Homo sapiens: one gene and its partners. The protein of the gene in region 2 interacts with the protein of the main gene of each other region in a biochemical or structural test. Each region holds a gene or a part of one and is shown on either strand. Other genes may lie near its edges. The genes, in order: NID1, COL4A1 and COCH.

The links.
Region 1: the proteins of COL4A1 (region 2) and NID1 form a complex in vitro, tested with the Homo sapiens proteins (one study listed by BioGRID).
Region 3: the proteins of COL4A1 (region 2) and COCH interact in a biophysical measurement, tested with the Homo sapiens proteins (one study listed by IntAct).

The regions. Positions count from the first base shown.
Region 1 is NC_000001.11:235,969,614-235,978,090, forward strand, and holds the end of NID1 (nidogen-1 precursor), read right to left. Parts: intron 8,376-8,477; coding exon 8,254-8,375; 3' UTR 6,217-8,253; downstream 1-6,216. UniProt on the Homo sapiens protein: Sulfated glycoprotein widely distributed in basement membranes and tightly associated with laminin. Also binds to collagen IV and perlecan. It probably has a role in cell-extracellular matrix interactions.
Region 2 is NC_000013.11:110,168,122-110,178,157, forward strand, and holds part of COL4A1 (collagen alpha-1(IV) chain isoform 1 preproprotein), read right to left. Parts: coding exon 9,943-10,036; intron 9,811-9,942; coding exon 9,721-9,810; intron 8,917-9,720; coding exon 8,764-8,916; intron 8,604-8,763; coding exon 8,505-8,603; intron 8,393-8,504; coding exon 8,303-8,392; intron 7,237-8,302; coding exon 7,097-7,236; intron 6,629-7,096; coding exon 6,502-6,628; intron 6,406-6,501; coding exon 6,325-6,405; intron 5,878-6,324; coding exon 5,779-5,877; intron 4,650-5,778; coding exon 4,599-4,649; intron 2,612-4,598; coding exon 2,426-2,611; intron 1,642-2,425; coding exon 1,508-1,641; intron 1-1,507. UniProt on the Homo sapiens protein: Type IV collagen is the major structural component of glomerular basement membranes (GBM), forming a 'chicken-wire' meshwork together with laminins, proteoglycans and entactin/nidogen.
Region 3 is NC_000014.9:30,881,671-30,892,306, reverse strand, and holds the end of COCH (cochlin isoform b precursor), read right to left. Parts: intron 7,798-10,636; exon of another isoform or gene 7,755-7,797; coding exon 7,651-7,754; exon of another isoform or gene 7,633-7,650; intron 7,323-7,632; coding exon of another isoform or gene 7,266-7,322; intron 6,914-7,265; coding exon 6,687-6,913; exon of another isoform or gene 6,512-6,686; coding exon 5,995-6,511; exon of another isoform or gene 5,981-5,994; intron 3,165-5,980; exon of another isoform or gene 3,052-3,164; intron 2,924-3,051; exon of another isoform or gene 2,692-2,923; coding exon 2,516-2,691; 3' UTR 1,689-2,515; downstream 1-1,688. UniProt on the Homo sapiens protein: Plays a role in the control of cell shape and motility in the trabecular meshwork.

The DNA of each region.
Region 1 (8,477 bases), on a different chromosome or scaffold from region 2:
GGTGTGGTGGCACATGCCTGTAATCCCAGCTGCTGGAGAGGCTGAGGCAGGAGAATAGCTTGAACCCAGGAGACAGAGGTTGCAGTGAGCCAAGATTGCAGTGAGCCAAGATCACGCCATTGCACTCCAGCCTGGGCAACAGAGCAAAACCCTGTCTCAAAAAAACAAACAAACAAACAAACAACAACAACAACAACAAACCCTTGGGGAATATTATTTGCAAAATAGACAACAAAAGGTTAATTAGCTTTAAAATGTAAAGGACACTTATAAATCAGTGAGATTCTCCCAATTAGAAAAAAGAACTGAGGACTAGAAGGACAATTGACAAAAGAACTTTAAGTGGCTAGTGTGCATTTCAAAAGTTTACCGCAACTTAAAGAGTGTAATTTTTTTTCTTTTTAGAGACTGAGCCTCAGTATGTTGCCCAGGATGGGCCTCAAACTCCTAGCTTCAAGCAGTCCTCCCATGTTGGCCTCCCAAAGTGCTGGGATTACAGGCGTGAGTCACTGCAACCAGCCAATAATGTAAATTTTAATAAACAAACACCACCTATGTAATTGGCAAAAATGAAAAAATAAACTATGCAAAGGCAAAAACATAGGTAAACGGGCCCTCTCCAACACTCCCGCTGGTGGAAGTATAAAGTGGTACAAACTTTCTGTAAGGCAGTTGGGGAGTATCTATTGAAAGTCTTAAATTTTTAAATAATCCTGAGTTGAAATTTATCCTAAAGATATTAATAAGGACACTGAGGGTCGGGCGTGGTGGCTCATGCCTGTAATCCCAGCACTTTGGGAGGCCGAGGCGGGTGAATCATGAGGTCAGGAGATTGAGACCATCCTGGATAACATGGTGAAACCACATCCCTACTACAAATATAAAAAATTAGCTGGGCATGGTGGCACATGCCTGTGGTCGCAGCTGCTCGGGAGGCTGAGGCAGGAGAATTGTTGAACCCGGGAGGCGGAGGTTGCAGTGAGCTGAGATTGCACCACTGCACTCCAGCCTGGGCAACAGAGCGTGACTCTCAAAAAAAAAAAAAAAAAAAAAAAAAGGACACTGATATTAGTATGTGGGTGTTTATTGGTTTATTGTTATTTATCACATCAAAAAACACATAGAAACACCCTAAAAGTTCATCAATAAATGAACTGGTGAGAGTTTATTGTCCATATAATAGAGTATGATACTATTATGTAGTTGATCAAAGTAATGTTCATATGCACATTTATTTAAATGGAAAACAAAAATACGGAAAAGTATCACAGGATCACATTTTTTGTTATATATATATCTTACAAAAATATATGTAAAAGTATTGTGTGTGTGTGTTTACAACATTTCTGGACAAGATTGTAGTGATGAGGCCATTATTGAGTAATGAAATTACTGTTATTTGTTTTTCTTGTGCCTTTATTTTCCAACTTTCTAAATGAAAATGTGCTGAATACAAATAAATAATAATGTAAGATAAAGTAAAAATAAATTTTCATTTAAGGTATTTCTTAAAAAGGGGGGTGAGGAAGGGTATTTAGAGTAAACCAAATCTGGAACTGGACTCTGCTCTGACGGCGTGACCTTTGCCAAGTTACTTCACCTCCTTAACCCTCAGTTTCCTGACTTACTCAATGGGCACAATAAATTCTACTACATAAGGTTATCCTGAGTTAGTTTTCCCATTTCCATCCAGCTAATAAAAGCTTCTTGCTGCACTCTCTCTCCTGAGCCTTCTCCCTTCTCTGATCCCCTTAACAAAGTGGTTCGAAGCAATCATTTAGCATCACCTGTTATTACTACCTGCTTAGTGACTAGACGCCCACTTATTTGCAAAAGCCCTGCATTTTCTGGAATTAGCCTGCTATTCCGTGTTTTCCACTTAGATTCACTCAGAACCTGGTCCATAAGGAGACGTATGCACTTTTGCATACACAGAATACACTCAGGAATACTTCTGTGTTTTCGTACCTCGGTGTAAGATGCTGAGCCCACGGCTGGGGATCTCGTGTGACGAATGTCTGCAAATGTTTGAGTAAGGAGATGACTTGGGGAGGAAAAGGGCTGGGCTATTTGGTGGAAATCTGAATTTAGATGAAGAGGCTTGACCATAATTGGGAAGTTCTTTTGCTAGCAGTTGGGCAACTCACCAATATGAAGAAAGCTCTTGAGTGGGACGATGGGAAGGCCCGAGCATAGCTTCTTTTGGGGAAGTTATCCGGGTAGCCAGGCCTGGGACGCTCCCCGCGCTCCGCCCTCACTTCTCTCTTCCCCCAAAAACAGGCATTGAGAGGCTCTTACTGCCCTCACGTGGCCCCTTCTGGAACTGTCTTTGAGGAGACCCGCCCAGATTTAAACTGAATCACGGGGGCTGGAGAGCACACACGCAGGCTTGCCAGTTAAGCTCATCTGTCCCCACTTAAGCTTCTAGCTACCAGGAAGCCGCTCTTCGAGCCTGTTTTCAAGCCTTTTTGGCCCTTCCGTCTCTTAAGTCCATGTTGTCTGAGCAAAGACCCTTTCTCCGTTGTAAGGAATTCTAAATCCTTTCGGCTGCAGCTTTCAGCAGCGCCTGGCATCCTGGCGGATGAGAAAAAGGGGAAAAACAGCAGCCCAACTTGAGAACCAGAGCTGGGCCGTGACGCTGCTGCGGGGGACTCTGGGTCCCGTCTTCCCCGCTTTCGAGACCTGTGGTCTTCAAATGTGCTCGATAGTACACTCCCTAAAAGAATTTTTGCAAAGTCCTGTTTTTCCCTGTTAAATCAAGTTTAGCTTAAAGCTACTCACATATTTTAAGTTCAGCCTAAAGGTTTCTCTGTGCCTGTAACCTAAAGGGAAGTGTAAATAGTCCCTCTCCCCCTTCACCCTCTCCTCTCCCGCTTTCTGTTTCTGCCTTATCTCTCTGACTCTTCTGCCTCCCTCCTCTGTTTTTAAGGGCCTGCCTGGATAACCCAGGATAATTTGCCTGTTTTAACGTCAGCTACTTAGTCATCTAAATTCCATCTGCAAAGTCCCTTCAGAGCAGTACAAAATTAGAATCTTGAAATCTTTAGAATTCGGCCAGCCACAACAACGATCAGCATTTTGCCAACCTTAGGTATCCAGGAGTTTTTGTTTTTAATTACAGTGATTTTTAAAAAACAGCTTATTTATTTATTTGACAGGGTCTTGCTCTGTGGCCCAGGCTGGAGTGCAGCGGCATGATCATAGCTCACTGTAACCTCAAACTCCCGGGCTCAAGCAATCCTCCTGCCTCAGCCTCCTGAGTAGCTAGGACTACAGGCACTTGCCACTACACCCGGCTAATTTTTAAAAGATTTTGTAGAGATGGGGGTCTCACTATATTGCCCAGGCTGGTCTCAAATTACTGGCCTCAAGTTGTCCTCCTGCCTCAGCCTCCTAAAGTGCTGAGATTACAGATGTGAGCCACTGTGCCCACCCAAAACAGCTTTATTGAGATATAATTCACATGCTATGTAATTCACCCAAAGTGTACCTGCAATGGTTTTGGGTATATTACATTATTAATTTTAAAAATTGTAAAATATGTATATATCATGAAATTTGCCATGTTAATAATTTTTTTTTTTGAGACAGAATCTTGCTCTGTTGCCAGGCTGGAGTGCAATGGCACGATCTCAGCTCACTGCAACCTCCGCCTCCCGGGTTCAAGCGATTCCTCTACCTCAGCCTCCTGAGTAGCTGGGACTACAGGTGCGCACCACCGCACCCGGCTAATTTTTTACATTTTAGTAGAGACGGGGTTTCACCATGTTGGCGAGGATGGTCTTGATCTCCTGACCTTGTGATCCGCCCGTCTTGGCCTCCCAAAGTGCTGGGATTACAGGCGTGAGCCACCGTGCCCAGCCATTAATAATTCTTAAGTGTACAAGTCACTGACATTTATTACATTCGCAATATTGTGCAACCATCACCACTATTTCCAATACTTTTCATTTTCCCAGGTAAGAATTCTGTAGCCATCGAGCAATAACTCTCCATTCCACCTCCCCACAGCCCCCGGTAACCTTTGATCTACTTTCAGTCTCCATGAATTGGTACATTCTAGATACCTCATATAAATGGAAGCGCATATATTGCTTGATAGTTTGTGTCTGGCTTATTTCCCACAGCATAATGTCCTGACGGTTCATCTGTGTTGTAGCATGTATCAGGATTTCATTTGTTAGGCTCAGTGATATTCCATTTTATGTACATAACGTATTTTGTTTATCCATTCATCTGTTGATGGACACTTGGGTTGTTTCCATCTTTTGGCTACAGTGAATGATATTGCAATGGACAGTAACACAGAAGCATCTGTTCCAGCCCTTGTTTTCTATTATTTTGGGTATAGTCCTAGGAGTGGAACTGCTGGATCATATAGTAATTCTATATTCAACTTTTTGAGGAACCACCAAGCTGTCTGTTTTCATTCCCATCAGCAACGGACAACGTTTCCAGATGCTCTCCAGTACTTGTTTTGTTTTGTTTTGTTTTGATAAAAGCCATCTTAATACTGTAAACTGGTGTCAAATTGTGGTTTTTATTTGCATTTACCTAATGACTAATGATATTGAGCATCTTTTCATATGCTTATTGGCCATTTGTATATCTTCTTCATATAAATGTTTATTCAAATCCTTTACTCATTTTTAAATTGTTTGCTTTTGTTGTTGAAATGTAGTTATATTCTGAATATTAATTCCTTATCACATATAGAGTTTGCAAATATTTTCTCCCATTCCATGGGTTGTCTTTTTACTCTCTTGATAGTATCCTTTGATGCAAAAATGTTAATTTTGATGAAGTCCAGCTTACCTGTTTTTTTCTTTCGTTGCTGGTGCTTTTGATATGTCCAAGAAATGTTTGACAAACCCAGTATCATGAAAATTTTTCCCTATATGCTAGCCCCTCAAGGATCAAAAGCAGCAATCAGTAATCAGAACCCACAACCTTGGTTTTTGGAAAACTGGGTCTTTATTGTCCAACCTGGCTCCAGCAAGCCACACTAAGTACCTGAGCTGCTGTCCCCACAACTGACTGCCCTGGGGCTGATCAAGGTGGGTGGTAGTCACCACTAAGTAAAGAGCTGAAATTGACCAAAACTTGCCAGCCTCCTCATCAAGCTTTCTCCTGGGTGCTGCAAGTGTTCCCTAAGATCCTGAATTCCAAAATAGTTGCATCAGACAGCTCTTGCCAGTTCAATTGTTTTAATGGAGGGATAGATTCCAGGAGCTTCTTATCTCCACCATGGAGCTTGATATCGTCTTTGAGTAACCAGATTTTATGGCCAGCATAAAACACTGGAAGTTTTAGCCCTAACATATGTAAGTTGTCTCTTTCAAGAAATTCACACTGGCAGGCTGTATACTGGCTCCACTGATGGTGCCAATTCCCTTCTCTGCAACAACTGAGCTCTGGACACCTCATTCCTGCAACTTCTGAGCCCCCTTCACTCTGTTCAACTCAGAGGCCATTCTCATCCCACCCAGGGGCCAGCATGAGTGGCACTGCCTGTTGGTGGCAGCTTAGAACAGACCAGGGGTCTCACTCCATAGCCAGTGCCAGGAAAGCATCTTTCTTCCTTCTGGAGGTAAAAAGAGAATTAAAACATAGCTTATCTCCAGAGCTGAATCAGAAAACTTTTTCTATTGCCTGCTTGTAGAATATATTTTCTCAATGAAAACAATATCCAAAAGGGTGGCTTGAAATCTATAATATAATTTATTTTTTATTTTTTTTTTAAGTTTTTGAGATAGGGTCTCACTCTGTTGCCCAGGTTGGAGTGCAGTGGCACGATCATAGCTCACTGCAGCCTTGGCCTCCCGGATTCAAACAATCCTCCCACCTCAGCCTCCTGAGTAGTTGGGACTACAGGTGTGTGCCACCATGCCCAGCTAATTTTTTTTTTTGATGTTTTGCAGAGATGGAGTCTCCCTGTATTGCCCAAACTGGTCTCAAACTCCTGGCCTCAAGTGATCCACCCACCTTGGCCTCCTAAAGTGTTGGGATTACAGGTGTGAGACACTGCACTCATTTTTAGGTAAATTACAACCCCTAAGGTTTTTTGTGGTTGAGAAACATACTAGCTCTCATAATACTGGGATAAGAGTTTCTGGGCTCCACAGGTTTTGCAGATTATTAAGTGGCTGTCTGTCTGTCTATCATGAATCAGCCTCCCAACATTAAATCTCTTCATTCAGAAAAGATAGAGGAAGATTTTCTTTTTTAAAAAAAGTTTATTTTCCACACTATTTGTACAGCTGTAAACTCAAGGAATCATCCAATACTTGTACAAATCTGGGAGAACAGTTAATAAGCACCTTCAGTGGTTTCCACAGTTTAAGAATTTACCATTAAAAAATTTTAGAATAAATCTAATAAAATGAATAAAATAGTTATAAAAATCATACAAAATCATGATGAACATTTGATATAGAGGGTTTAATATGAAACGATAAATACAAAAAGTGAGACTAATTTATGGATTTGGGCTACGTAAAAGACCTACATGGTCCTCGAATCTTGTGATTCTTGGGGCTATATTTGCCTCTCAAGACAAACTCCAATTATTCAAGGAAGACTTTCTTTCAATTCAGGTTCCAATGTACTGCAGAAGCAAGTGAGGACAAAGTCAGGAGAAGGTGGGGCAGAGAGGCTGAGTGTACTGGGGTTTGAGGAAAAGAGGAGAGACTCTTTTCCCCAAAGAGAGTATCAGGCAAATTCTTCCATGTTCTCAAGTATAAGTGGTCTTTGGCAAAATGTACCATTTTCTTTTTGGAGTTACTTAAGAGTTTTACTTATTGCTGTTCTTAAATTCCTTCCCCTACCACTTCCTCTTGGGCTTTTTTATTTCTCTTGTTGATCAATCTCTTTTTTGTGATACTTTTCATTGAATCATCTCGACTCCTTTATCCCATCCTTTACTGACTCAAACTCCTTATGCTGAACTTTTCAATCCAAAATTTCTATTGTTTTAGGACTCTGGGAAGCAGTTGATAAAAAGATAACACGAGCTACTGATATGGTCAGGAGATGTTTTCTAAACAAATTGTAGAAATATAAACATGAAATGTGGCAATGATCCCTTTAATTAGATCATTGAGCAATAAAGGATATGAACCATTAGTATAAATATTCAATTCAGTCTTTCCGGATTGTGTTGTTAGATAAGAATACATCCAAAAAGGGCCACAGATCGAGGGAGAAACCAAGGAGGGGTGAGGTCATGGTTGAGTGTAAATTGGTTCTGTCATGTGGAGGCCGGAGGTGAGGGACTGTGGTGGGACATCATCTGGTGCCAGCCCCATCCTGTACCTCAGATAGGTCTCCGTGAAAAGGAGGGACATCAGTGCAAGCAGTGGGGCTAAAGACCAGCACAGCAACAGAGACTAGAACCTTGGATGCAAGTATTTTGGGCAAAGAGGAATAATTAGTAATCTTTGGTATAATTTAAGGCACATCAAAAAAATCCCCTATTCTCAAATATCTGACCTACACCTTGAAATTCCTACCATTGGACATTCTTTTGATTTAAGCCTTTAACTAACAAATGCCAATATCCTACTGCTCAAATATTGACATTCTATCTGGGAGGGGCTGCTCATTATCATCCACCAAATGCCCATAGATCTCTAGGACAGGGTAGGTTTTGATGAAAAAGCAGCGCATGAATATTATAATGGGGGTCTTAGACAAGATGATGATGGTGAGGAACTGAGGAGTAAAACTATAGGACTATAATAAAGAAGAAATTCAGAGCACCAAAACAAAACATTAAGGAATGCTAATTTCCTCCTTAACTCCCAACTTTTCCTAGTCAGGCCCCGGCTCATAGGTCAAGGAGCTGACAGGACGGTGGGTACCTCAAAGCGAGGCTGAGCTCATAAGGCCACAGGGAAGGGTGCAACTCAAATTTGGGAGGTTCTGTTCACCACTGGGGGGCTAGTATTGGGAAAAGGTCCTAGGACACTGGGATGGGCATGTAATCCTCACTCAGGGGTGTATAAGTCTGTCTGAGGGTTGGGGGTAGGGGTGGAGGGTTCTGTCCTTGTGTAGGGGTGGAGACTTTTCTATTAGAGAAGTCCAGGGTGCATGTTTTGGGGAACAGTGAGGGAAAAGTTGTTGGGGCTCAGGCTGGGCTGGGTCTGGGCCTAGTGGCCACTCAGCCAGAGGACACTTTTCAATCTGGACCAAGTTGCTTCAAGTAGAGTGTTGCTGTGAAATACTTGGAAAGGAAATAAGGCACTCTTGTCTTCATTTCTGTTCGATACAGTCAACTCCCAAGGTGTTGTCAGGGCAACGGCAGGTCCTGCTCCCTGGGGTGGCCAAGCATAGGTGGGTGCAGCCGCCATTGTTCACTGAGCAGTAGTTATGGCCTGGAAAAGGCAGAAATCAGTTCAATAGCCCTCTCTCTGATCTGACTCCATAGCCATTTAAGATAGTGGGCTCCTTCTTGTGTGTGATCCCCCTTTTAGTTT
Region 2 (10,036 bases):
CAATTCTCCTGCTTCAGCCTTCCAAGTGGCTGGGATTACAGGCATGAGCCACCATGCTAACTTGTGCATTTTTAGTAGAGACAGGGTTTTGCCATGTTGGCCAGGCTGGTCTCGAACTCCCCACCTCAGGTGATCTGCCCACCTCGGCCTCCCAAAGTGCTAGGATTACAGGCGTGAGCTACCAGGCCCAGCCGGGAATGGGGTATATTTCTATGTTACTGAGGAATAAAAATGAGAATACATAAATATTTGACAAATTACCTAGGCTTACATTACTGGAAAACTGCAATATAGCAATAGGGGCCCAAAAATACATTCACATACACATTTGCTATACTGTGGAGATATACACAGCTTTGAGGACAAGGAATGGGTAAACATGACTGTTGCTACTCCTTATAGCCAGTTCTGCATAATTATTTATAAGCATTTCATAACTTACTGATTCAGAAGTAAATCAGCACCACGTATTGTTTTGCACCCAGCAAGCTTAGCTATTCTGTATCCATCCTTGAGAAAGTAGTCTGATGACTCTAAGATATGTCTCTGCTGCTGATGAGCAGTTCAAAGCTTTCCCTTTAAGGGAGAACATGTGTTGACTTACAGAAGAACCCCGCTTGCTCCAACATAACTGCAGAGGTCTGTCTCAAATCCCTCCTATTCATGATCTCCCCTGATATACTCTCTCTTTCTCCTAACGTGTGTTAGAGAGAGACAGAGAGACAGACAGATGGAGACAGATAGAGGAAACAGAGAGACAGACACAGAGAATAAAGCTCTGCTAATCCAGCTATTTGAATGAGCGAGCCACGTAAACACAATCCTTTAGCCATGGACATGGTTAAGCTAAAAATCAAACCAAAGATCCATGACCACCACTAAGAAGGGCTATATATTCAGGTGCAGCAAAGAGCCAAAGTCACACACACACACACAGAAATACACAAGGCTGCTGGTCACTTATTGCACCCTGAGATGTGCTCTTCTGAAGGCTTGTCTAAGTCACCACTTAGACTCTGTATCTGGATCAGGTCAGTAAAGAAAGATGGAATATTGCTGGTTATCTTTTATGACTTGAACTGTTCAACTGCAATTCCCTGTCCTCCTGCCAGTCCTAAGAGATGGCTGGGCTAGTTTTACAGAATTGTTCTCTGCAAAACAACATTGGCTTGCTTTTTACATTGAGTTTGTAAATAGGTCTTAAATTTAGGCATTGAGCCATAATTTCCAGCAGTATAACATTTCCCTTTTATGGTTCTTGGAAAACTGGATTGTAAAAAAATGTTACAATAGTTTCCTACTCTGATGCCAATAAAGATGTGGGTTACTGGCAAGAAAGAAAGAAAGAACTGATTTAGTGGGGATGTGGGAGTGTAACACACACACACACACACACACACACACATATATATACATACACAAAATACATACACACATAGACACATATGAATACTTCTGGCCAGAAAAGACTCCTTTAAAAATAAAAATCTACAAATCAATAACTCACAGGCATGCCCTGGAATCCAGGGTCTCCCTTGGGCCCTGGGACACCGGGTGCTCCTGGCCAGCCTGGATTTCCTTTGTCACCTTTAACTCCATCAATCCCAGGAAGCCCTGGAGGCCCCATGGGTCCCGGAAGTCCTAATGGAAGAGAAGAAAGCCACACATTTGGGGTTAAATATGCACAAGTGTCCCTGGGCTGTGGGGCTATCAATACTGCCACCCACGGCCCCTCACTGATACAACACTGGACCAACAGTGACAACCCTTGAGACAGAAATCGAGGCAGGTCCAGGAAGGAAGGAAGGAGGGAGGGAGGGAGGGAATAGAAACACTACTATCTCTGATAAAACACTGGACCGACAATGTGAACCCTTGAGACAGAAATTGAGGAAGGTCTGGGAAGGAAGGAAGGGAGGGAAGGAGGGAGGAAGGAGGGGAGGGAGGAGGGGAGGGGAGGGGAAGGAGGGAGGGAGAGAGGAAGGGAGGAAAGAAGGAAGGAAGGAAGGAAGGAAGGAAGGAAGGAAGGACAGACATAGAAATGCCACTGTCTCCGTGTCCAAAATGGCCTGCGGTCAGTGGTGCCCGGGCATCTGTGCTACCACTACGGGGGTCTTCACCAGAACCCACAAGTGGGCCCAAGTGCTGCGCTGGTTTAAGTCCAACGCCACCGACGGGGCACGAGTCCAGGCTTGTCCAATCATTTCCTTTCTTGCATCTCCCTAATTACTTAAATTCCTTGACAGAAAGGATACAAGAAAAGCTTTGACTCGATGGGGGCCAAACACAATTTCAAGCTGTAATAAATGCTGCAGACTTCTAAATAAAAAAGCCCAATTGAGAATTTAACTATTTCTTTTACGCTATTTCCTTTTGTGAATTCTGTCCCAGTCCTCAGCCCTGGCCCCTGGCGAGATGCCCTTACCTGGCAGGCCAGGCTGGCCCTGAGGTCCGCGGTCTCCTTTGGGCCCCTCCGTGGCATGGCCTGGGGATCCCGGTAACCCCGGCTGTCCCTGGGGCCCCGGAGGACCCATGAATCCTTGCTCTCCTTTGGATCCAGGAATTCCTGGGCTCCCGGCTAATCCTGGGAAACCCACCTCACCCTTTGAACCTGAACAAGAAAAACAGTTTGAGGTGATGGGAAACGCAGCAGCAGAACAGTAATCTCCAGCGTGGACGGCAGAGATGGGATGAGGCGTGCCTCATCCTGTAGGTACCGCTCAGAGGGAGCTTCCAGGGACACCACAGGAAACTGCAGCAAGGGCTCCGATCCCTCCTTCTCTTTAATAACACACTAGAATCCGACCATGGCCTGGCTGGAAAAAGAGCTCAGAATGCTAGGAACCCAGCTATCGTTTTCATACTTCTCACGAGACGTGTTCTATGGCAAAGGCATCTGAATTGTGTTTAAAGACATCTGCAGCAACTGCACTGCTAAACGAAAGCCTCACTCCATCAGCACATGAATGGGCTGGACAAGCCAATCATGTTATATCCATGCAGTGGGACACTACTCAGCCATAGAAAGAAGTGAGCAACCACTGGGCTGGATCTCAAACGAATTATGTCGTGGGAGAGTAGTCAGGCTGAAAAGACTACGAAGTGTATGGTTTTATTTTTGTAAACTGCTGGAAAATGCAAACTAACCTAGAGGACCAGAAGGCAGATGGACGGTTGCTTGGGGAATGGGGAGAGGGCAGGAGGGGGGGATTATGAAGCCACGGAGGAGACTTTTGGGGGAAGGCTTTGCCTGCTATCTAGAATGTGGGGATGTTTTCATGGTGTAGACCTATGTCAGCCTTATCAAATTGTCCACTTTAAATATTTGTAGTTTATGACCTGTCAGTGAAACTTCAATAGAGCAGGTTTAAAAAATTAAAAAGTAACAGCTTGTAGGAAAAAGAAATTCTATGTTTAGTTTTAAACATAGTATCCAAATCTTACCAATAAAAATGCCAAAATTCTAAGGTTATTTCCAAAACAAAGGAAAAGGGAATGAAATAGGGTCAAGACCTAAAGTGGTCATTTGGGATTCTCTTCTCCTGGGGATTCTCCCTGCTATTTCACACAGCAATGAGTGGAAAACGCAAGGTGCTGCGTAGAGTTTGTGCAAGGGCAGTGCAGCATGTCCAAAGGAGTGTGCGGGATCACATGGCAAGGTAGGAAAGGCAGGGCAGGAACAGCCCACAGCGACCCCTTGAGCAGGTGCATTTGCAAGGGGCTCTGTGTTTGAGGGATTCTGTGAGTTAAGGGAGAGGGAAGTGTCCATTCCCAAGGCAGCCCACCCGGCACCAGGCCATCCTTCTCAACCCAGGGGTTCCCAGTGTCAGACTACATGCCTGCCAAGGAAACACTCTGGGCTGGTCTCGGGGAGAACCAGGGGGTGGGAGAAACAACACCTCCGTGCCCCTGCTCCTTCTCAGCTGAAGTCCAAGGCCTTCCAGGGCTTTCTGAATCCTCCCACTGAGTGGGATCACTCAGCCAGCCCAGCCACGGGCCATAAGCATGCCCATGGATGCTGTGTGTGAGCTCCTGGCTGCGGCCACCTGTGGCTTCTCTTCAGTGTCGTGCAGCTCACATGCCTTGTATTTTCTGTGTCCCCTTTGCTTTCCCATGAAATGCTCAGCTCTCTGAGAGAAGAGACTGCCTTCCCAAGCTCCTGGCCAACTCTCAGCTGCACTTAGTACTGAGCACATCGTGGCTGCGCAGGGCATGTTTTTGTCTCGTGGTGTGTGCTACATACTGTCCTGCATTCACATAAGTATAACCAGTTCTAGAAAGTCAGAATTTCAATATTCTGATGACCTTCTAGGCATAAAAATGACAGGGGTCTCGCCTCTCTGCTGGATTTTTACAAAATTAGTCCAAGTAAAAGATAATTCTGATCATGAGTGTACTGCACGCCATTTTGATCCATTAATTAGAAGGGAACCACATGTGTCTTGCAGGCATTGCCCTCTGGGCTCAGCACCCATCCTCCATCCCGTTGCTGCCTGGCCAACAGGCATGGGGCTTCATCCTGAAGACACTGCCCCTTGTTCTGCTAATCAGGCAGCAGCGGTTGGTTGAAAAGGAAGAGCACAGTGAGCAAAGATTACCTTTGTCTCCTTTGGCCCCTGGAAACCCTGGGAATCCTCTTCCTGGTAGACCTATAAGATGAGGGTAAAATGCCACGTTTCTCTTTACTTAAACAATCCATCTGCAGGTACAACACAAAGCACTATCAACTCTGCAATAATACTACGTATATTGTGGAGTACATAGATATTAGTTAATTGCACCCTTGTAATAAAATGATATTCCTACAGTTATAAGATACCCTTGACTGAATGTTCCTAATTTAGTACTTTTTCCTAAGTACCTTTCAGCTCAGAACCACCACGGCATTTAGCACAAATGATCTGTGCAAATGAGTATTTGTTTCCTGCTGCCGTCTGGAGATAAGCAAATGGGATTCTCAGACAACCATCCACTAATTGCTATTCTCAGGGAGGTGGGGAAAGCCAAAGAGATTTGGGGCAGCAGATGCTGGGGAGATGACAAACGTCAGCAAAGGGCTTGAGGGAAGATTCAAATCGGGGGAAAGGAGTGCAGGGGTATTTTTATGAATTGTTTGTATAGAAAAACAAATGTATAGAATATAAAGTTATGGAATGAAAAAAATGAAAAGAAAGCCAGCACCAATAGCTGTGGATGCTCTTGGTGGTCCTCCCAGTGTCCCCCCAAGTCAGGGGTAACCTGCTTCAAATGGTGTGTTTATCTCTCTCTTGCATTAAATACAAATATTACTGTGTATGTGATTGTCATCATCACACCTGCACTTTTGTCCAAGTTATGGCCAAGTTAAAGCCCACCAGTGACAGGAGCAGACTCAGGGGCCAACCAATATTTCCAACCATTTCCCCTCAAATGGGGAAATGCTGGGCAAAGAAAAGAGTTTTGTTTTGCTTTGCTTTGTTTTGTCATAGCAACCACAAGGGAAATGGAAAGTGTTCTAACAGCAGGTATTTTATGTGTCTCTGACTCACCACTGAGAGCTCAGGTTATTTCAGGGGAAGATGCCCTCAGTATTTATGGGATAATAAATACCCCTTCCCTTCTTCCCCTCCACTCATCCCACTCTACTCCACACATCCACATCAGTGTTTAAGTAGTTGCAGGGATGTGCAGTCTAGGGGCCATTCTGTGCCCAGCTTTATTCACTGAACACAGGCAGTCTGCAGGTCTCTGGGAGTGGACACTGCTGATTCTGATAGGGAATGGGGCGTTGGGCCATACCTGGTTCACCCTTCTCTCCTGCTGACCCCGGGATTCCATCACTGCCTGGCTCCCCTTTCTGGCCAGCTGGGCCTGTGGGGCCAGGAGTCCCAGGAAGACCTCAAAGAGAAAAGTCACATCAGACACCCGCATAACCTCTCACAGCACCCTAGCTGCCATACAAAATGGCCCTTTGCTGACATCCTTTAAGGGAGCTGTTCCCTCCCAAGCACACCTGGTTTTCCTGAGGTCAGTTCTGACTTCCCTTCAGAAAGGACCCTGCGTGCTTTCAGCAACACCACCAAACCCTGACCCTCAAAAGCTGGTGACAAAAACTCCATGATGGCCACAAAAACAGTTTGGAGATTTAGGTCCTAGATCCTGCTAGTGACAAGACCTCAGAAAGATCCTGTAACCTGCACTAGACTCAGTTTGCCCATCTGAAGATGGGAGACAGGACAGCTGGCCTCCCTGCTCCCCGTCTGTGATGGGAACTCCTTGGGGCCTCCCATCCCCTGGCCACTGTTCTCTATGTGCCCGGGCTGTGTCCCAAAGAGGGCCCTCTACCTGCTTCTCCTTTGACACCAGGGATGCCATCCAATCCTGGGAGGCCTTTGTCACCTTTTTCTCCAGGTAGCCCAGGACTTCCTAAAGAAAAAAACAAAACACCAGAACATCCATAAGTTTGGGCTTTTCTTTGATTTCTTAGATTCCCCAAGTCCAAGAGAAGCCCCCCTCACCTACCTGGATAGCCAACACTCCCGGGAGACCCTTTAAGGCCTGGGGACCCTGGCATTCCTGGGATCCCAATGCTTCCTTTTTCTCCCTTCTCTCCAGGGCTTCCTGGGAAACCCGCTATCCCTTGATCTCCCTGCAAGTAAAAGTCAGGCATATTAACTTTACATTTGTCCATGGGCATGCATCTGTAGGCATGTTATAGATAATGGTATACATTTTGGTGCAATGAATATTGCATTGCAAAACTCCATTTCCAGATTTCTCATCAAAGAATCAAAGTCCACTTCTGAATGGAGAGGAAAACTTAAGAGCAGTAGAGCCAACCATCTGGTTTCTACCTGCCATTCCTCTTCGTCCTCCATCCTCTCTGTTTTATCCCACTGACAGCTGTCTCCCACCTTAGCCTCTCACCAGTCTCTAGATTCTTCCTTGGGGGAGAGGTAGTGAATACAAGGGGAAGGAGAGGCGACTTGTGCTGCCTTATGGGACTCCCTGTGTGTTATGGCTCATTGAGTGTGCTGAGATATTTGCTGAGCATTTCTCAGGCAGCATCTCCACTGAGCTGGGAGAAGGGGACCTTTCCACGCAGAGCGCTGGTTACCTTTTCACCTCGCAGCCCTGGGATGCCTATGCCAGGTGGGCCTGCCTGCCCTTTCTCTCCTTTTGCACCTTTGTCTCCAGGTAAGCCAGGTGAACCTTGTGGGCCAGGGATGCCAGGCACACCTTTCTCTCCAGGTGTTCCTATAAACACAAACAATTGAAACTTGATTTGGGCTTAGCTAGTGCTGGTATTACAAATGAAAAAGTGCCTCCACAGCCAGCCAAGAATGAGATACAAGAACGTGAATCCCCCACAACCAGCCAAGATTGAGATACAAGAATGCACATCCCTCATGTATCAATCGGCTCATGACCCAGAACACGTCAGTCACCCAGATCACATCAGAGCCACGCTAGGAAATGTCTCTCCCGTCCTTTAAGACCATCATGTTATAAGACAGGGAAGAAATACATTAACTACCTAGAATATTTACTTTCTCAACAGAATAAAAATGGATCTTATGTTCTTTATTATACAGCCAGCTCTCATCAGCCAGACGTCACAGGGACTATGAGGCGGGCAGGCCGGAGTCTGTGCACACTCGGTTCTGTGATGCATGCTGGTAGCCAGGCTTATTCACACATAGGCATGACCAGCAATCTAGATGCTTATATTTTAATTAAAGTGATAACAGCACCTGGTCAAGACTCAAGAGGAGATGGAAAGATGGGCTTCCCATCTGAACTCTCCCCCTTTCTGAGTGAGCTCTGAGGACCATCACCACCCAGCCCTTCCCGCACTCTCCTCCTCTTCCCGGCTGCTCTCACTACAATAGACACTGATGGCAAAGCATTAAGGCTAGTCCGGGATTGGAGCAGAGGAGTCCGGAGAATTCTTCTGAACTAACACAAAGGGCTCTGGAGCCATAAGCTACTCAGGCTGACAAGCCTGGATGGAGAAGCCGTCGTCTCTTAGGGAGATCCTAGACAAGGGGATGGTCACTTGGAGATCATCAAAAGTTGACTGTATACAGCCCATGTTTTATTCCATTAGATGGTGAGTTTTCTTAGCAATGGCCATTCTGTCAGCCAAATGTCATCCATCCCTGAGCAGGAGACCATTCAGAGCTGGGGATGTGAATTCATGTGAAAGACACACGTGCCTGGATTCTGTCCGTCTCAGCTGAAGAGGATCTCATTCTGCAGACATGCCCTACCAGTATCACACGCACACATGCTAAAGAATCCTCTTCTAAATCCAGTTTACCTGGCAAGCCCATTCCACCAACAGATCCTTTTGGTCCCGGAAGTCCTGGAGCACCTGGGGTTCCACTTATACCTGGATCACCTTTAGGTCCTAGAACCATAAAGAAAGCAGTCTGACAGGTTGACATCTACAGAAAGAGCTGGGGAACACAGGCCTCATCCTGAGCCCTTGCCACACTGGGGACCGGAGCTCCACACTGTACCTGGCTGCCCAGGCTGTCCTGCCTGCCCGTCCTTTCCAGGCACTCCTGGGGTCCCAGGGTCTCCTCGGGATCCCTTCTCACCAATTGGTCCAATTTGTCCTACACATCAGAGAAGAAAATAGCAATGACCCGCATTTGCTTGCAAGCAAGTTGCTGCAGAAACGCAGGTTGGTTTGGTTATTATTTATGGAGGACCCGATAACCCAGGAAAGGCACATTGTGGTTCCGAGCTTGGCCATGAGAAGCCTCCTGGACTTGCCTTTCTCTCCTTGGTCTCCTTTCTGGCCCTTCATGCTGCCCATGTCCACCTTATCCATGGAGCCAGGCTTGCCAGGGAGACCGACATCCCCCTTATCACCTTTCAAGCCAGGGTCTCCCCTGGGTCCTGAGGAGCCCGGAAAGCCATGGTCCCCTGCAGAGGAAAGAGAAGGCACTGGTGAGCCTGGGCCAGTGTCACAGAGGTGCTCAAAAGGCTCACGTTCTTGTTGACAGGGACAGCAGCTGGCAAAAAGGCTACAAAGCACTCATAACTTGTCCAAAATGGCATTAATGGCCAGTGTCTGAGACACAGAAGAATCCAACCCCAGGTAAATGAGCAGTAAAAAGCCATTTTCTACAATTCATTATTCGCTAATAACTCTACTGCATGTGACTTGGCTTTCAGGTTTAGATAACTTACATTTCTCTCCTTCCTACATATCTTTATCACTCTTATTCATAGTGCCCCTCAGTTCTATACAAAATAATAGAACAGGAATTTTATCATTCTACAAAACAAATGACCTTTTCATGTGTCATATTTACAGTATTTCTTTGTAAAAGACATTATTTTGGAACAACTTCAAATAACGATAAGAAATAAAGACGAAGCCTTGTAAACTTGCGCAGGTTGTTAATCTGAGCCTAAGGACTCGGTCCCTGTATCTTGGCATGGCTGAAGATTCCACCATTTCTCACAAGAAGAATCTCATCTGTGCCAAGAAGGAAAGCCCAGCTTCTTTCTGATTTGCTTGGCCAAGCACAGTTTCAACCCCATGTGCATTGAGCACCAGGAATCCTACTGGAAGAAGGGGGTCTCCCAGCCTTCTGCTTGATGTTCCTAACTTCTTTTGTAGGCGTCTTAAAGGGAAATATGATCTATGACAACTTGAGAATTTCCCAAGTGGCATCGAGAAATAGACACAAAATGAGCTTCTAGGGTTATCAGCTCCCCTACCTTTTTCACCCGGTAATCCAGGAGCACCCACTGGTCCTGGTGAGCCCGGCTGCCCGGGGGTCCCCATGACGCCCATTTCTCCCTTGGAACCTGTGGCCAAAGGAAAGGACTGTGAACATTTTCTTGCTCTGAATGCTGACAGTAAATGCTGAGTCATAAAAAGAATAAGGTGAGGCCCATGTCTTCATGATGGATCCAGGCAGAAGTTCAAAAATCACTTACCTGGAAACCCAGGAATCCCAGGAGCCCCCTGCTGTCCAGGAAGGCCAGGGAGCCCCGACTGTCCCGTTATGCCAGGGAGTCCTTGAGCCCCTTT
Region 3 (10,636 bases), on a different chromosome or scaffold from region 2:
GACGTATTTTGGAATGTATTAAAACTGAAATGGATAAAAATTAGTATATATGTTTATTTTGTTCTATCTCCTTTGGTTGTATTTTTCTCTGCAGTATTAAACATTTGGAAGAGACTAAAGGTATGCAAAAATAATGTCTTATTTTCATTATGTGTGCTTCCATTTGACACATGGGAAATTAGATTAATTTCACTATTAAATAGTACTTTATACAAATCTTAATATGTTGATTTCTTCAATAGTTAATCATATTCTGCCTCTCATTTCATGTTGTTTTTCTCATTATTTCAAACTAGGTAACTTACCTGTTGAAGACTAACATTGCATTTAATGCATTAAGTTATAAATGGGCCAGCATATTTGAAATCTAAGCATGTTTGCTTAAGTTGGATTGTAATACGTATTTCCTTTTTACTCTGTCTCCTGTAAATAACCTTTATCCTGATTATGTTTACTTACATAATTATTGATAGTAACCTACAGTTCTGATTTCTGCTGTCTTGCTGCTATTCCCTGGTTACTTCAGGTGACTCAAAACTTGGTCCTTTATAAAATTAAAGAAAAAACCACTTTCTTAAAAGGGCTAATGAGTGGTAGCTGGGTTTTCATTAGAGCTTAATTTTCCAAGGGGTTGTACTCCTAGCTGAGAGTTTTTGGTCTACTTACTGGGGAAAAATCATACTATGCTAAACCCAGTTTTTATGATGTTTAATTAAAATTATCCCTGTTACATGATTCAGTCATGTTTGAAGCATTTTATAAAAGGGGAGGTTGTCTTCTCAAACTCTATTTTCAAATTCAAATTTTTATGTAGTGAAAAAGTCAATTCCAGTTTGTTTCTCCCTGCATGTAGTCCTTTTATTCCTCTTATGCAGGGTATAAAATTGTAAGACTCAGAAGATTTACTGGAGTATATTATTCTAACCAGTTAACACATTTCAGGGGGCTTAGGTGGATGAGAGGAGGAGATAGGACCTATCTTTAGAAAAGACAGACAAGGTGGGATGATAGAGCACCTCTGTCTTTTGGGAGAGGCCTTGGTAAGCGAATCATCTAAGTCACATTAAGGGAGTCCTGATGTTCTCCTTTCATAGGAACCAACTTCACAAGCATTTTTAAGTAAAAAATGATGTCAATTACAAAACATTTCTGGTGAAGCAAGTACTCAAAAATATCTTATACTGTTTAATCAGGTAGTGGCTGTGTATAATGCCTAGGACAGTAGGTATTCGATAAACTTGTGTCTTTTTATTTTTTTTTTTATTTTGGAGATAGGGTCTTGCTCTGTCACCCAAGCTGGAGTGCAGTGGTGTGATCATGGCTCACTGTAGCCTTGACCTCCTCGGCTCAAGCAGTCCTCCCACCTCAGCCTCCCAAGTAGCTCAGACTACAGACATGCACCATCCCACCCGGCTAATTTTTTTTTCTTTTTTGTAGAGGGGGTTCTCACTATGTTGCCCAGGCTGGTCTTGAATTCTTGGCCTCAAGCAGTCCTCCTGCTTCAGCCTCCCAAAGTGCTGGGATTACAGGCATGAGCCACTGTGCTTGGCCTCAATAAATAATTGAATCAAAGAAAAAATATTCTTGGTATTATTACATGATTTAAAAAACAATTCAGATTGGTCTTTCCACATGAATTTTTACCATATCCTCAGGGGAGACACTAGCAGTAATAAAAGTAAGCCAGCTTACAATAACTCACTAGCAGTTTTATTGCTTAAATATTCAAACTACAATATTTTTTCTGCAGTTATTTGAAATGTCTTTGTCTTTAAATGTTTATAAGCAGTCAGTAAATACTTTACCAACTTAACTTTTAAGTACTTAGGTGACTTAGAATATAAGCCAAATATATCTATATACATATAAAATTAAGGAGAGAAATAGAAAAATACCTGGCAATCCTGCTCTCTTATTCAGTGTGATATTTTTAGTCATAAGTTGTTATGAAAACACACTACAAAAGCAGTTTGATACAGGTCTCCTTTCTATATCCAGATTTTATAGTCTGCAGTAATAGCTAGCTATTATTGATTGGTTTTAAGAAAATATCCACTTGGGTCAAAATATGTGTACCTGAACCATGTTAAAGAGCTGTGTTCATTTAAGTTTCTCTTTTCATTTTGCTTATATAATCAATACAGAATGGTTAGAGAACGAATGTTGCTTTTGGTCTAAGTATCAGATTCTTTTATTGAGCTATGGAATTTGCATATCTGTACATTTAGTAGGCATGGTTAGAACTCTTAAGGTTTTAATCCACATTATCTCCTCTTTCCTGAGTTTCTAAGAGCCATGATTATGAAGCCTCAGCAGTGTTTTTAACAAAGTACACTGTAAATTGTAACCAGAAGGCAGCGGCTTTAAAGGAGTGCTTATTTGCCTAAATGGCTGTTGACATACTTAATAGTTTTGTATCTGATTCTAGTATGCTAAAGCATTTCAGTATTATGAGAATACAATTTACACACTGGATCCCCTTGTACTTTTTCTTTCAGTTGTCAAAATGTTACCATTATTGCTGGGATTCTAAGAAATCTCTACAAATGCCTCTGATGACATCAGAAACAATTGGTTCTAATCCTGTGAACTCTCTTGTGAAGAAAGCATGAGACTCCTTCGGTTTAGAAGCCATATCTTTCAGGTCATCCAGAGGTGCCCAAGCCACACCAACAGAGAAGATAGTGATTCCTACAATGAAAACATTTTAAAGTGAATTGAAAATCAGGTCTAGCTAATATATGGAATTATGTCTATATGTTTTCCATACACTGTTACATAGTTGCAGCGAAAACTGCTTACTAATTTCTGGACAATTAAATCCCCTGAACAAATTAAGTTTTCACAGTCATTGTGACGAGAGTGGCAAAAGAGTGGTCCAAACCAGAAACTCTGCTATATCTGTAATTCGCCACATTAACAGGTAAGTCATCACTGATAAGAAATAATTTGATAAAGTTCAATATCCATTAATGACAGAACACACCTATAAACTAGGAATAGAAGAAGACTTTTAACCTGATCCACAGTATCTTTTTTAAAATCCTACAGTAAATGCGGATGGTGAAAATTTTCCGTATGAGGTTGGCCTGCATCAAACAGTATACTGGAGTCAGAGTCACAATCCATTAAAGCAAGGAAGAATGGCACAAGAGATGGGATAAGTAAATAGCAAAAGTGTTCAAAGGTTGCATTGTTTGAGGAATGGTGACTAGTCCTCTGATAATGAAAAATCCTCTTCCATTTCAATCTTTATATTGGCAAACTGTCTAATAATCAGAAAATGTCAGCCTATAATCCCAAAGCAAAACTAGTGACTAAAAAGTACTGCCCAAGAGGGATCTTATGAAACTGGAGTAATTTCTTCCAGTTTCATTGAGGTATTCTATTTCCATTCACTTTAGTTACTAGAAGGCTTTTAGTACAACTGTACATTTAGGGTAATAATACATTAGTTGGATTCACCCCAATCCCAATTGTAGAAGTTTTCATTTAATCTTTTTTTTTTTTTTTTCTCAGACAGGGTCTGGCTCTTTTGCCCATGCTGGAGTGCAGTGGTACAATCAAGGCTCACTGCAGCCTCAACTTCCTGGGCTCAAACTATCCTCCTCAGCACCCCCATCCTCAAATAGCTGGGACTACAAGCGCATGCCACTAAGCCCAGCTAATTTTTAAATTTCTTTGTAGAGATGGGGTTTCACCATGTTGTTCAGGCTGGTCTCATCTCGAACTCCAGGGCTCAAGCGATCCATCTGCCTCGGCCTCCCAAAGTGCTGGGATTACAGGCATAAGCCACCACACCTGGCCTCATTTAGCAGATTCTTAGTGTAGAGTACCATCTATCTAATGCTGGGTGCAATTTTCTATAACTTTTGGAGTTTCTGTAATAGTTTTCCTCTACAGATCTAAGGTTTCATTCCCCTTCTAGTGGTATACAGTGCTCAGAGTGGTAAATACCTAAGATATGCAGCAGGTTTAGATGATGTAAAAGCTACTTGGAACAATGTCCAATTGTTCCAGTCTCCTTTTCCTGACTCTCACTCCCTGGTTAAAAAAAAAAAAAGTCAAAATATTTTTTTCCTCCCCCTCAGTTTTCCTCACTTCTTTTCAGTTCTACATTCTAGTTCAGATTGTTTAGCTCAAGCCCAGCATATAATTACAGTTAAAAAAAAAAATAATCACACCACTGTACTCCAGCCTGGGTGACAGAGCAAGACCCTGAAAATAAATAAAAACTGTTGTGATCTACCCCTAAAATCCTACCCTATTTTCTGGCTTTTGCAACTTTCAATATCACTAAGGGATAATTTTCACGAATCAATATTGGTGTAGTCCAGCCTCCTGAACTTTAATCAACCTAATCACTTTATAGCCTGAATACAATCCTGTTAACTATAAGTTCAGTAAGCTAAGTATTAAGGAATATGATAGTAAACAGGTCTTTACTTCACAGGCTAGTTGCTGATGTATAAAAAATACTTTTTACAAGCTAGATGTGGAACTTAAATTGCATGTGTTCTCTGTTTTAAGAATAATCTTTCATCAGTATCTGTAAAAATATGTGAGTACATTGGCAGAGGTACTAATGTGTAGAAAGGAAAAAGGTTATGTCATTAGGAATTAAGTAGGGAAAATGAGGTACAGAAGAGTGTTAAAAAAAACAAGTCCATTGATTCTTCCCTCCTGTCACTCAGTTATATCCTCAGAAAGGGAATCTTAGCTTTTTGTTGGCCTATTTGATCTCTAACACATTACGTTAATGTCTTCAGGAACGAGGCCTGTGCCAAAAGTAATATTAAGGCTGGGGTGAGGAAGAAAGAAACCCTTCTTATACCCTTTTATAACACCAGAGTGTGTTTTTATTATCTTAAGCGGGGGGGAAAAAGTTTTTTTTTTTTTTTTTTTTTCTTTTTGAGACAGAGTCTCACTCTGTCGCCCAGGCTGGAGTACAATGGCACGATCTCAGTTCATTGCAACCTCTGCCTCCTGGGTTCAAGTGATTCTCGTGCCTCAGCCTCCTGAGTAGCTGGGATTACAGGTGTATGTTACCACACCCAGCTAATTTTTGTATTTTTAATAGAGACTGGGTTTTACCATGTTGGCCCGGCTGGTCTTGAACTCCTGACCTCAGGTGATCCCGCCCACCTCAGCCTCCCAAAGTGCTGAATTACAGATGTGAGCCACTGCACCTGGCCAAGGAAATTTTGATGGGATAGGTAAAGTCTATGGGAGACCTTATCTTAGGAAACTCATGCCAGACAAAACTTGACTAAAATAAAAGTTAGGGTTGGGTGTGGTGGCTTATGCCTGTAATCCCAGCACTTTGGGAGGCCAAGGTGTGAGGATTGCTTGAGCCCAGGAGTTTGAGATCAGCCTGGGCAACAAAGTGAGACCCCCGTCTCTCCCCAAAAAAATTTAAAAATTAGCCAGGGGCAGTGGCATGTGCCTGTCGTCCTAGCTATTTGGAAGGCTGACACAGGAGGATTGCTTGAGCCCAATAGTTGGAGGTTGTAGCTCACTACATGCCACTGCACTCCAGCCTGGTGACAGAGCAATTACCTGTTTCATACACAAGAAAGTTAGGATAAATTACTGAATGGCAGATTCATGGTAGGTTATAAGCTGGCTATTTGGAGATATAGTCCAAGTTTGAGCTAAATATGAGCACCTTAATTGTATATGTATAAGCATATTTCCTTAATGTGACATGGTTCTCATGGCAATTCTCCCAACAATACAGTGGTTAGGAATGTGCACTCTGGAGCCAGAATGCCTGGGTTTGGATCTTGGCCTTGCCACTTACTAGAAATGTCATTTCCAGGAAGTTTGCTTCCTTATCTGTAGAATGAGATGAGTAGGGCTGCTTTAACAGTTAATATTGGGTAAAGCCACAGGTGTTTGTTTAATGAAATAAATGCTTAAATTTTTATTTACTCCTAAATTCACTGAACCGTTTTTTCTGTTCCCTTCTCCTATAAAGAACAAGGACCTTACCTGCATCATGTGCAGCAGCTGCAGGGCCTTGGACATCATCATAGGACTGCCCATCTGTGACAATTACTAGGAAGTTCTTGTTGGGGCTCTCCCTTATAGGGCCAAACACATTTCTAACAGTGAAGGAAATGGCATCACCAGTAGCTGTTCCACCACTCATATAGCGGATGTTTCTGATGACAGCTAGGACATTCTCTTTGGTGCTATAGTCAGTGAAACTGAACTCCGTGCGCTGATCATAAGTAAACTGTACAGCAGCTATCTTGGCACCAATGTCCGAGATTTCAAAAGTCTTGGCTATGTTGGAAACAAATTCAAGCATGAGGCGGAAATTGCTATCTCCAACACTGCTGGAGCCATCAATTAGAAAGGCAATGTTCACTGAGTTATAACAGGTCTTGCTGCACATCATTTGTTCATGAGTGCACAGCTTCTGTACCAGAGGCTTTACGTATTTTGTGGTGCCAAACCAGTTGGGCATGTGGTAAGAGAAGAAGCCATTATTCCGACAGACAGCCTAATGGGGGAGACACATAAAAGATATCCAAAAGGATCAAAAGTTGTTTCTTCTTAAAAACTGGAAAATCCTGAATGTTTCAAGTTAATCTAGATAAGAGGCAGTCAGCACTGCACTTAGAGGTCCAAAATGGAATACCCATCACTGTAACAGAAGATAACCCTCACCACTTTACCTTGTCAACAAATGTGACATCCTGAACCATCCCCAGTTCTTCAGGGATAGGCTTGGCCACAGAAACTATAAATACATTGACACCAAACTCTCTGGCCACAATGCCTGCTTCCTCGATGTCATCAGAAGGCCAACCATCAATAAATACCACCACCACTTTGGGGATCCCTTTTCTTACTCCAGCATCTACCGTGAAGAATTTCTGAGCAGTATGCTTCAAGGCTTTTCCTAAATTTGAAAAAGAAGCAAACAAATAGCCTTTACCACTGCTCAAACCACATTTCTGTTTCCCTGTAGCATTTGATGCTGCAAAGTTTAAGAATTATATATAGAACTGGCAGTGGGGCGGGGCACACAAAAAAGAATTATATAGAACCCAGTTCTGTAACAGATGCATCAGCTGGGAAAGTTTAATTATCTACCAGGCCTATTTATCTTCACAAGCCATATTAGTTCCCCCTCCACCTCCTAGAAGCCTCACATTTGTTTACCCCACATCAATCGCCAGTTAGAAACACAAAACTGATTCCCACTTCCATGCATGTGCTCTCTATGTAGCCCTTTGGTGACTGATTAGTACCTCTAAGAAGTCTCTCTTCAGAGTCAACGGTAGTGCTACTCATTCTTTCTGCCACATCTGCATTCATTAGATAAGTCTGTTGATTTTCACTTCTTTTTAGCATTACAAAGAGATACTTCTCCAATGTTATATCTAGTCAATCCAATGTATGAGAATTCTAAATCACCATGCTTTATATTTTTTAAAATAAGAAATATCAACACTTTGGTATACTTCCATTATAAATTGAAAATTTATCTCAGATGATCAAATGCAGACCTAGCCAAGATTTCAGTTCCAGGAGGATTTCACATCTGCTCATATAAAATAGCATAATACTGTTTTACATGTCTGATCACTGATAACCCTCTCCTATGTTACATCCCAGGTATCAAAGTCTACTTACCTGTATTGGAATTACCCCCTCTGAAACCTACTTCCTTTATGGCAAACAAAACATCTTTGGCTGATGTAAAGTTTTTCAAGTAAAATTCTATTTTGGGATGTTCACTGAGTGGAAGAAAGAAAATGTTATTCAGGGAGAATTAAAAAGGTAAAATAAGCAACATTACATGCCTTAAAAAACAGTTTTAAAACCAGACAACACACAAGTTTCTTTCTTAATTCCATAGTACATAGTCAACTGAGGCATTGCATCCTTACTTGAATTATTGGAGATATTTCAGAGGTGTAACAAATAATTGCCATATTGAGGATTTATTATATTCTGGGTAATAAGCCAAAAGCATAACACATGTAAAACCTCATTTCATCATAGCTCTATAAGGTTGGAATTATCCCAATTATGTAAATGAAGAAACTGAGTCTCAGAGCATTTAGGGAGTTTGCCTGATGAAACACAGCTGCATTTTAAGTTCAAGTTGTCTGGCTGCAAAGTCCATGCCTAAACTATACGGAGAACTTGAAATCGGGCTTGGCTCAGAGCCTCGGGTTTAACAGAAGTCCGCAGAGTTGGGCACCAGGTAGCTAAACTAAATGAGGAAGTGGCTGGGTATGAGACTAGGGTCTGTTCCAGTGTGGGACCCCAGAGGCTCTAAGTAGTGTGGATCTATTAACTCAGAGCTCTCTGTTCAGGAGAAACAATTTCATTGATGTGACCGTCAACATTTTTTTAAAGGGACAAAGGTGAAATGAATTATAAAGTTACAATATTGAGTTTTTCTTATAATGACAATGACATTTGTGCACCTTAAAATTATGTGTATTGTAAGAGTTTTGAGATCTCATTTCCTATATTTAATATTAAAGGAATTTCAGCTCACTTTTATATAACTACTCTGTGTTCAGCAGAGACCGTTTTGAGTATAAACAACCACAGCACAATCTGTTGTGTTTAGTTTCTAGATGAGTCAGTATTTCCTAGTGCAAAATTTAAGATCTTAGCATTATCAGTAGCCATTTTATTCAAGATTTTTTGAGGGAGAAGTAGAACACTGACTGTATTTCTGCATACATACCTGATGGAATATTGGGTCATAAAATCAGATTTCATGGGTTGAAAACCTTTTCACTTGTGGTCACTTTTCAACTATCCAGATTATGACTTATGAAATTAGTCTCATTTTTGTATCCTTGATATATTCTGTTCTTTGACTTACATACATATAAACTTGACATGGTTTACCTATTCTAATGGTCTTTCTAAAACAGAAAAACTACAAAACTTTGTATGAGTCTACAAGGTAATGAAGAATTCATCTTCAAAAAGAATTGGGTCAAAGTAGTCAGAAAAAAGTACAAGACAAAAAGTACTGCAGGGGAATTTGCCTCATGGGATGTTAAAATGTGCAATAAAACTGTGATAATCAAAGCAGCGTAGAAAAAAATATGTAAGGATTAGCATATGAATCAAAGAAATAGACTTGCTCAAACTCAGGTATAAATGTGATACCATAAGTCAATGAAACAAGGAACACATTTTTTTTAAGGGTGAGAGACAAATGGTTAAATTATGTTAAAACAGTTAAATTTTCTTCTCATGCCAAAAAAATTCTATCTAATCTAAGAGCAGAGCCACTTGTAAAAAATAACAGAAATGAAATGGAAATTAATATTTGTAATAGCACTGTTTATACAACCTTACACACTGCTGATAGTAGTTTAAACTACTTCACCTTTCTAGGAAGCAATTTCGCTATTTATTTGTTTTTTTAGAGATGGGGTCTTTCTCTGTTGTCCAGGCTGGAGTAGAGTGGTGCCATCATAGCTCACTGCAGCTTTGAACTCCTGGGCTTGAGAGATCCTCACACCTCAGCCTCCTGAGCAGCTGGCACTACAGGCATGAGCCACTGTGCATGGCTCAATTTCACTATTTATATCAGAGGCTTTAAGTCAGAACCTCACTTTTAGAAATCTAACCTGATGAAATAATCAGAGATGGGCACAAAGATGATATAAGGATGTTCATCACAGTGTAGTGTGTAATGTAGTGAAGAAATAATAAGAATGACTAATCATGCAGCGGAATATTATGAAATATTTTTGATGAATATTTGTGATATGAGAAAATGCTAAAAATACTAAAGGATGAAAAAAACAGGATGCAGGGCATTTTTAATAGTCTGAGTTTTTAAAAAATAATACAGTCAAATATTTCCTTAAAATACTGAAGGGGCCAGGCGTGGTAGCTCACACCTGTAATCCTAGCACTTTGGGAGTCCGAGGCAGGTGGATCACCTGAGGTCAGGAGCTCGAGACCAGGCTGGCCAACATGGTGAAACCTTGTCTCTACTAAAAATACAAAAATTAGCCAGGCGTAGTAGTGCACACCTGTGATCCCAGCTACTCAGGAGGCTGAGGCAGGAGAATCACTTAAATCCAGGAGGCAGAGGTTGTAGTGAACAAAGATCGTGCCATTGCATTCCAGCCTCGGTGACAGAGCAAAACTCCGTCTCAAAAAAAAAAAAAAAAAAAAAAAAAAACCATTTTATAGTGATTATCTCTAGGGCATATGATTTAGAGCATTTCTTTTTTTGTGCTCTATGTATTTTCAAGCTTTCTATAATGAGCATATTCTATTTCTAAAAGCAATTAATAAATAAATATTTATTTATTTATTTATTTTTATTTTTATTTTTTGAAACAGAGTCTTGCTCTGTTGCCCAGGCTGGAGTGCAGTGGCACGATCTTGGCTCACTGCAAGCTCCACCTCCTGGGTTCACGCCATTCTCCTGCCTCAGCCTCCCGAGTAGCTGGGACTACAGGCGCCTGCCACCACGCCCGGCTAATTTTTTTTTTTTGTATTTTTAGTAGAGACGGGGTTTCCCCGTGTTAGCCAGGATGGTCTCAATCTCCTGACCCCGTGATCCATCCGCCTCGGCCTCCCAAAGTGCTGGGATTACAGGCGTGAGCCACCGCACCTGGCCAGCAAT